2 linked regions of the Homo sapiens genome follow. The protein of the gene in region 2 interacts with the protein of the main gene of each other region in a pairwise test. Each region holds a gene or a part of one and is shown on either strand. Other genes may lie near its edges. The genes, in order: NAGPA and DEGS1.

Region 1 (3,611 bases), on a different chromosome or scaffold from region 2:
CTCGAACCTGTAATCTCAGCACTTTGGGAGGCCATGGCAGGAGGTTGACTTGAGGCCAGGAGCTTGAGACCAGCCTGGGCAACTCAGTGACACCCCTTCTCTGCAAAAAAAATTTTAAAAATTAGCTGGGCATGGTGGCATGTGCCTATAGTCCCAGCTACTTGAGAGACTGAGGTGGGAGAATCACTTGAGCCCAGGAGGTCAAAATTGCAGTGAGCCGAGATCGTGCCATTGCACTCCAGCCAGGGCAACAGAGCGAGACCCTGTTTCTAAGAAAGACAAGAAGTGTGGTCTGGGGACCTGAAGCATCAGCATCGTCAGAGAGCTTGTTGGAAACGCAGAATTGCTGGCCTCACCCCAGGCCCAAATCTGCATTTTAACAAGATCTCCTCGTGACCTGTGGCATATTAAAGTTTGATAAGCACTGGATTAAACAAGCAGGGAACAGGACTTGGCTCCAGGATGCCGTTGTGACTTCTGTTTCAGGATAAGCCACACCTGCTAAGCCCTAGCAGTGACCTAAGTCCATGATTCAGAATCCACACACCACCTGGTGGCTCCTTTTATTATATCAATTTATTCAAGTGATTAAAAAACTTCTTGGCAGCAGGATGACAAAACAGGTCTGTAAACATGATCTCATCCCCCCATCCCTTCTTCCAAGGAGCTTCCTATGACAGGAAATCGAATTCTAGTTGGCAAATCCAGTGATGAGGTCTGTAGAAAAGGGGTCCCGTGTCACAGCCAGGAAGGCAGACTCGTCCCTTTAACCCACTCCAGCCAGGGGTGCTGGCCAGGATGTGCTGTTCTGTCATGACGTGGTCACTGAGTCTGGTTCGTTGGCAGCCCCTTCCCCAGGAGGAGGGAGACTCTTTGGCAGTGCGGCAGCCCTCCCGGGGGCACGGGCTTCTCGGCAGCAGACACAGGCAGGCCAGAAGCAGGCAGCTGAGCCTCTCCAGCGAGCATGGTATTGCTAGGGTTGCAGGTGCCCTGGCAGGTGGCCAGGTGAGGGGCTGAGGCACAAGTGCTATCAGGAACTTGGCTGCCCCACAGGGGCTGAGGACACCCAGATGGTCCACGCCAGTGGCCTTGAAATTTCCCCTGCAGAAGCCAGACCGTGGGGAAACAAGCTTTCGCGACGTGCCACCCCGGGCAGCTTGAGGCTTCAGTCCTTGAAGGGGTTGTGGGCGCCCCCTGGCTGCTCCTTCTCTGCGGCCAGAGGCTCCCCGTTCATCTCCTGCAGCGGGTGGTATGCATAGTCCCCATGCAGGCGCCGGTTCCTCTCTGCTCTGGACAGGAGCAAGGACAGGTTTGCTGCAGTGCTGATCAGCAGGAGGAAGGCCAGCGCCAGGGTGAGGGCTAGCCAGGCGGTCCTGCAGACAGGAGAGAAGCCCCAAGTGGGGGACTGCTGGGTGGGCTCAGGGCTTGGGTAGCACTGGAGGGGCTTCCCTCTACCCGGCATAGATAGCACTAAATCAGGTGCCTCCAGGGACCACACAGGGAATGTTATGAGCAAAATGGACTAGGTGGGGATGGGGCAACATTTAAGACATGTGCAGGGAACAGCAGAGGCAGTCATGACGTACAATGCAGGTCCGTGCTGCCCCATCTCCTGATTTTTTTTTTTTTTTTTTGAGACAGAGTCTCGCCCTGTCATCCAGGCTGGAGTGCAGTGGCATGATCTCAGCTCACTGCAATCTCCGCCTCCTGGCTTCAAACGATTCCCCTGCCTTGGACTCCCGAGTAGCTGGGACTACAGGCTCGAATCACCACGCCTGGCTAATTTTCGTATTTTCAGTAGAGACCAGGTTTCACCATGTTGGCCAGGCTGGTCTTGAACTCCTGACCTCAAGTGATCCACCTGCCTCGGCCTCCCAAAGTGCTAGGATTACAGGCGTGAGCCACCACGCCTGGCCTGATATTTTAAGAGAAGCCATTAAAAAGGTTTTTAAGGCTGGGCGTGGTGCTCATGCCTGCAATCCCAGCACTTTGTGAGGCTTAGGCGGGCGTATCACTTGAGGTCAGGAGTTCAAGACCAGCCTGGCCAACATGGCGAAATCCTGTCTCTACTAAAAATATGAAAATTAGCCGGGCACCTGTAATCCCAGCTACTCAGGAGACTGAGGCAGGAGAATTGCCTGAACCCAGGAGGCGGAGGTTGTGGTGAGCTGAGATCGCACCACTGCACTCCAGCCTAGGCAACAGAGTGAGACCCCGTCTCAAAAAAAAAAGTTTAAAAAAATGTGAATGTTACTGATTTTTAGATGCTGCTGATATATTTTAACTTTTTAAAAATTATGTAAGCCAAATAAAACACAGCTGGATGCTGGGCATGGGGGCTGGGAGGCCAAGGTGGGAGGATCACTTGAGCCCAGGACTGTGCACCTCGTCTGTGCAAAATAGTGAGATCCTATCTCTAAAAAACAGTAAGAAATAAAATTAGCCGGGCATGGGGGCACGTGCCTGTCGTCCTAGCTACTTGGGAGGCTGAGGCGGGAGGATCGCAGTGAGCTGACTGTACTACAGCACTTCTGCCTGGGTGACAGAATGAGGAAACCTCCTGCCCCCACCCTGGGATCTCATCTAGCCCAGTTTGCATTCTGAGCTCCAGTGGGGGATGCTGACAACAGAGGCTGGGCACTCGAAGGCCCTGGGCTCTGCTCCAGGGTCCCCAAAGCAGACAGTGGGGAGAGCTGGTCCCGCTTCCTCTAAGGCAGGGAGCTGGCAGGGGACAAGGGCAGAGATGGACCTCACAGGGGAAGGGTGCGGGAGAGAAGGGGGATTCCTCCCGCCCTGGCCCCAGCTCCCACAGAAGCACCTACCTGGTGAAAAAGGAGAGTTCTCCCGCCCTCAGGGTGGCTTCAGGTGGCTGGAGACACTGCTTTACTGTAACATACCAGAGACAGGCTGAAGGGGCCGGAGCAGGAGCGTCTGCCCATACCCCTCCCCTTGGAGGGATAGGTACCTCTGGAGACGCTGCAGTTGCCAGTCTTGGGGTCACAGGGACAATGGTGCTCACACTTACAAGGCCTCTGGCAGCCCGGCCCATGCCAGCCAAGGGGACACTCTATGGAAAGGAGATGGGAGGAGGGAGGAGGGAGGAGAAAGGTTGGGGCCTCCAGTGTCAGAGCCTTTCTCGACAGGACAGGATACCTGCCCCTGCCCATGTGTACAGAGCCGGGCTAAAGGTGAAGCACCCCCTGCCCTCCCTGGACTAGCCCCTGAACGTGACCTTATTTGGAAGCAGAATCTCTACAGAGGCACTGCAGTTAGGATCTCAAGATAAGACCGTGCTGGATTTGAGGTGGGCCCTGGAGCCAGAGCCCGGGGACCCTTGTTTTAGCCGAGCCCTTTGTGGAACGGGCCGCAGCAGCCACAGGGGAGTCACACAGTGATGTGCAGGTGAGGCCGGGGCAGAAGACAAGAGGCAAGCATTTCCCAGACCAGAAGGTGGAGACAGAAGCAGCAGAGGAGCAGTGGGGGCTGCCGGGGGCCACCGTCTCCCCATCCGCTAGTGGCGTGGCAGCTCCTACCTTCACTGCAGTTGGACCCGGTCCATCCGGCATCACAGCGGCAGCCGGCTGCCGAGACAAGACCGGGGAGGCCAGGTG
Region 2 (3,815 bases):
ATCATACCTCAGGCTTTTTAAAAATTATTTTTGAGATGAAATTTTAAAGTTCCCCCGGTACCCAAGTTACCATATTATATAGTATAAAGATAGTGAAATACAAAAATGTAACAAATACTAATACACTGTGATTAATAGCTGTTTATTAGCTTTTTAATAAAGCAAAACTTTATAGTGAAATAAACTAGAAATAGCTTTTTATTTTTTATATATATTTATTTATTTTTGAGATGGGGTCTTGCTCTGTTGCCCAGGGTGGAGTGCAGTGGCACAATCTTGGGTCACTGCAGCCTCTGCCTCCGCCTCCTGGGTTCAAGCAATTCTCCCACCTCAGCCTCCCATGTAGCTGGGATTACAGGCATGTGCCGCCACGCCCGGCTAATTTTTGCATTTTTAGTAGAGATGGGGTTTCACCGTGTTGGCCAGGCTGGTCTCGAACTCCTGACCTCAGGTGATCCACCCACCTTGGCCTCCCAAAGTGCTGGGATTATAGGCATGAGCCACCGTGCCTGGCGAAATAGCTTTTTAGAAGCTTTTTAAATGATATGCTTATAAAATGACAGACATGAGTGAAACATCCTCAATGACGATAATACACAAGTCACAAGTTTCCTGTGAGTGAAACTGAGCAGTACAGAGTCAGGCTGACTGTTTAAAAGCCAGATTCACTTCTTGGTATCACCGAGCTCTTACTCTGAAATTGTGCCAGGGGAGCTTCTGAGCATCACTGGTCTCAAGTTTAATAATGCAAAAATTCCATTTTATCATCTAAAGTTTTGGAGAAGAATCCCTTTGGCACTAATGATATTTACTCCAGCACCATCTCTCCTTTTTGGTGCCTCTTCATTCTTGAGTAGGGACTTATTGTATCATCCATCACAAAATCATACAGTACTTTTATCCAGGAATTGTAGTGAGGGAGGTTGTCATAGTATTCAGCTGCTATTTTCCTCACCTAGAAGGGAAAAAATACAGCAAGATGAAAAATGAGTGTTACTAGGTTCTTTCAAAGATGACTGATGAATGGTTGACACAAACACTGAGAAGGGAAACCATGAGACCTGCCTCCCTCCTCTCTCTTAAAAAAAAAAAAAAGCAGCAGCAGCAGCAGCTGTGGGAATTCTAAACAAAAAGCAGTCTACATTTCAGCAGCAGTTGAATACACTCGACCCTCTAGGTCTCTCTCCCATCACATTCCAAGGGACTAAATATCTGGCTTATTTGTAAAATTAACAACAAATACATACAATTAGATTAACTTGATATTATTAAAGAATGTACTGCATGGATGACGCCATAGAATATAAAGGCAACATCTGATCCCTGCCATCCAGGAACTTACAAATACTAATAAATTGTGGCATGCTAATTAGATAGAAATTAAGCACTTGGCTGGGTGCGGTGGCTCATACCTGTAATCCCAGGACTTTGGGAAGCCGAGGCGGGTGGATCACCTGAGGTCAGGAGTTCGAGACCAGCCTAACCAATATGGTGAAACCCCATCTCTACTAAAAATACAAAAAAATTAGCCAGACATGGTGGCGTGCGCCTGTAGTCCCAGCAACTCAGGAGGCTGAGATAGGAGAATTGCTTGAACTCGGGAGGCGGAGGTTGCAGTGAGCCGAGATTGTGCCACTGCACTCCAGCCTGGGTGAGAGAGAGACTCCATCTCAAAAAAAAAAAAAAAAAAAAAAAAGCACTTATCAAATGTGCAATTCTGCCATCTCAAGTTAAAAATGTCTTTTCATCTCAAGTTAAAAAACTATCTGGATGGGCACAGTGGTTCGTATGTATAATCCCAGCATCATTCTGGAAGGCAAGAGAATCACTTGAGCCCAGGAATTTGAGACCAGCCTGGGCAACACAGGGAAACCCATCTCTCTCTTTTTTTTTTTTTGAGACGGAGTTTCGCTCTGTCACCCAGGCTGGAGTGCAGTGGCACAATCTCGGCTCACTGCAACCTCCACTGCCCGAGTTCAAACGATTCTCCCGCCTCAGCCTCCCGAGTAGCTGGGACTATAGGTACCCGCCACCATGCCCAGCTAAGTTTTTTGTATTTTTAGTAGAGACAGGCTTTCACTATGTTGGCCAGGCTGGTCTCGAACTCCTGACCTCAGATGATCCACTCACCTAGGCCTCCCAAAGTGCTGGGATTACAGGTGTGAGCCACTGCACCCATCCAGGAAACTCCAGCTCTATAAAAATGTTAAAAATGTTAAAAATTTTAACAAACCATTTGGAGGATTAAAAGAAATTATTTAAAAAATCAGCCTGTCATAGCATGTGGCTGTAGTCCTAGCTACTTGGGAGGCTGAGGCAGGAGGATCACTTGAATCCAGGAGTTTGAGACCAGCCTGAGCAACACAGCAAGACCCTGCCTCTACAAAAAATAAAAAATTAGCCAGGCATGGTGGCACGTGCCTATAATCCTGCCTACTCAGGAGGCTGAGGTGGGAGGATCGCTTGACCCAGGAGTTGAGGCTGCAGTGAGCTATCGTACCACTGCACTCTAGACTAGGTGACAGGGCAAGACCCTGTCTCTAAAAAAACATAAAGTTAAAAAATAAAATTAAAAATAAATCCTAAGTGTAACCACTAAGCTTAAGGACCCAAGAGTGAACCCTTTGTAAAAGTAGGCTGGAAGATGCAGTATTTATATTCTTGCTCTTTTTGTTTTTTTTTTTTTTAATGAACTGCTTGGACTGACAAAATACTAGCCTGGCCAACATGGCAAAACCCCATCTCTACTAAAAATACAAAAATTAGCTGGGCGTGGTAGCATGCGCCTGTAATCCCAACTACTTGGGAGACTGAGGCATGAGAATCGTTTGAACCCGGGAGGTGGAGGTTACAGTGAGCCGAGATCGTGCCACTGCCCGCCAGCCTGGGCGACTGAGTGAGACACCGTCTCAAAAAACAAACAAATGAAAAAACAAAATTAGAATATGTATCAAATCCTTTACTTACCAGTGGAAGACTTTTTCCAGGAATGTTGGGGAAATCATGATGTTCATTATGATAACCCACATTGAAGGTAAGTAAATTCAGAGGCCCATAATATGAGTAAGTTTCATGACCCTTTAAGAACATGTAATGCTCAGCTATAAAATGTCCAGAAATTGGGTGCAAACCCAGGCCAAGTAAAGATGCTGCCAACATGTAGACTAAGGATTTAATTCCCAAAAAGTAATAAATTAAAATGTCAAAAGTGACCTGTGCCACGGTATTGATAACTTCCAGATACGTAATTGGTTTGGGGTTGATGAACAGAGGTCGAAAGGCATAAAAGAGAGGCTGAAGAATAACCCATATAAACTTTCTGAAAGCGGTACAGAAGAACCAGCCCTCAAAATCGGTAGGAATATCTACATCGACGCCATCAGCTCCAAGGTACCGATGATGATCCATGTGATACCTCTTAAAGGAAATTGAATATGGAATCCCAATAGGAAGATTAGCAAACATTCCAAACCAGCGATTCCACATTGCTTTGCAGTTGCCAAAGGCAGCATTGTGGGCAATCTCATGAATAGCCAGAGTCATTGAGTGGTTAATGCAACTGCCAAACGCATAGGCCCCAAATATGACCCATTTCCAGTCCAAGTCTTTTACTATGTAAAATGCACCCAACTGGGTGAGAACCATCATAATTATAATCCATATCAAATTGGGATCAGGTTTCATCAAGGACTTTATCTCTGGATACTTTGCTGTAAAGAAAAAACAAAAAAACAGGAACTAAGAAAAGTATGTAATAGTTCACCAATTATAATTAAATTAACACCAATTAAACTAACACATTAAATTTGTTCTGT

Evidence for each region.
Region 1: the proteins of DEGS1 (region 2) and NAGPA interact in a two-hybrid assay, tested with the Homo sapiens proteins (one large-scale study listed by BioGRID and IntAct).

The regions. Positions count from the first base shown.
Region 1 is NC_000016.10:5,024,313-5,027,923, forward strand, and holds the end of NAGPA (N-acetylglucosamine-1-phosphodiester alpha-N-acetylglucosaminidase precursor), read right to left. Parts: intron 3,582-3,611; coding exon 3,534-3,581; intron 3,068-3,533; coding exon 2,966-3,067; intron 2,887-2,965; coding exon 2,823-2,886; intron 1,374-2,822; coding exon 1,166-1,373; 3' UTR 532-1,165; downstream 1-531. UniProt on the Homo sapiens protein: Catalyzes the second step in the formation of the mannose 6-phosphate targeting signal on lysosomal enzyme oligosaccharides by removing GlcNAc residues from GlcNAc-alpha-P-mannose moieties, which are formed in the first step.
Region 2 is NC_000001.11:224,189,472-224,193,286, reverse strand, and holds part of DEGS1 (sphingolipid delta(4)-desaturase DES1), read right to left. Parts: intron 3,711-3,815; coding exon 2,968-3,710; intron 2,196-2,967; coding exon of another isoform or gene 2,154-2,195; exon of another isoform or gene 2,131-2,153; intron 956-2,130; coding exon 809-955; 3' UTR 1-808. UniProt on the Homo sapiens protein: Has sphingolipid-delta-4-desaturase activity. Converts D-erythro-sphinganine to D-erythro-sphingosine (E-sphing-4-enine). Catalyzes the equilibrium isomerization of retinols.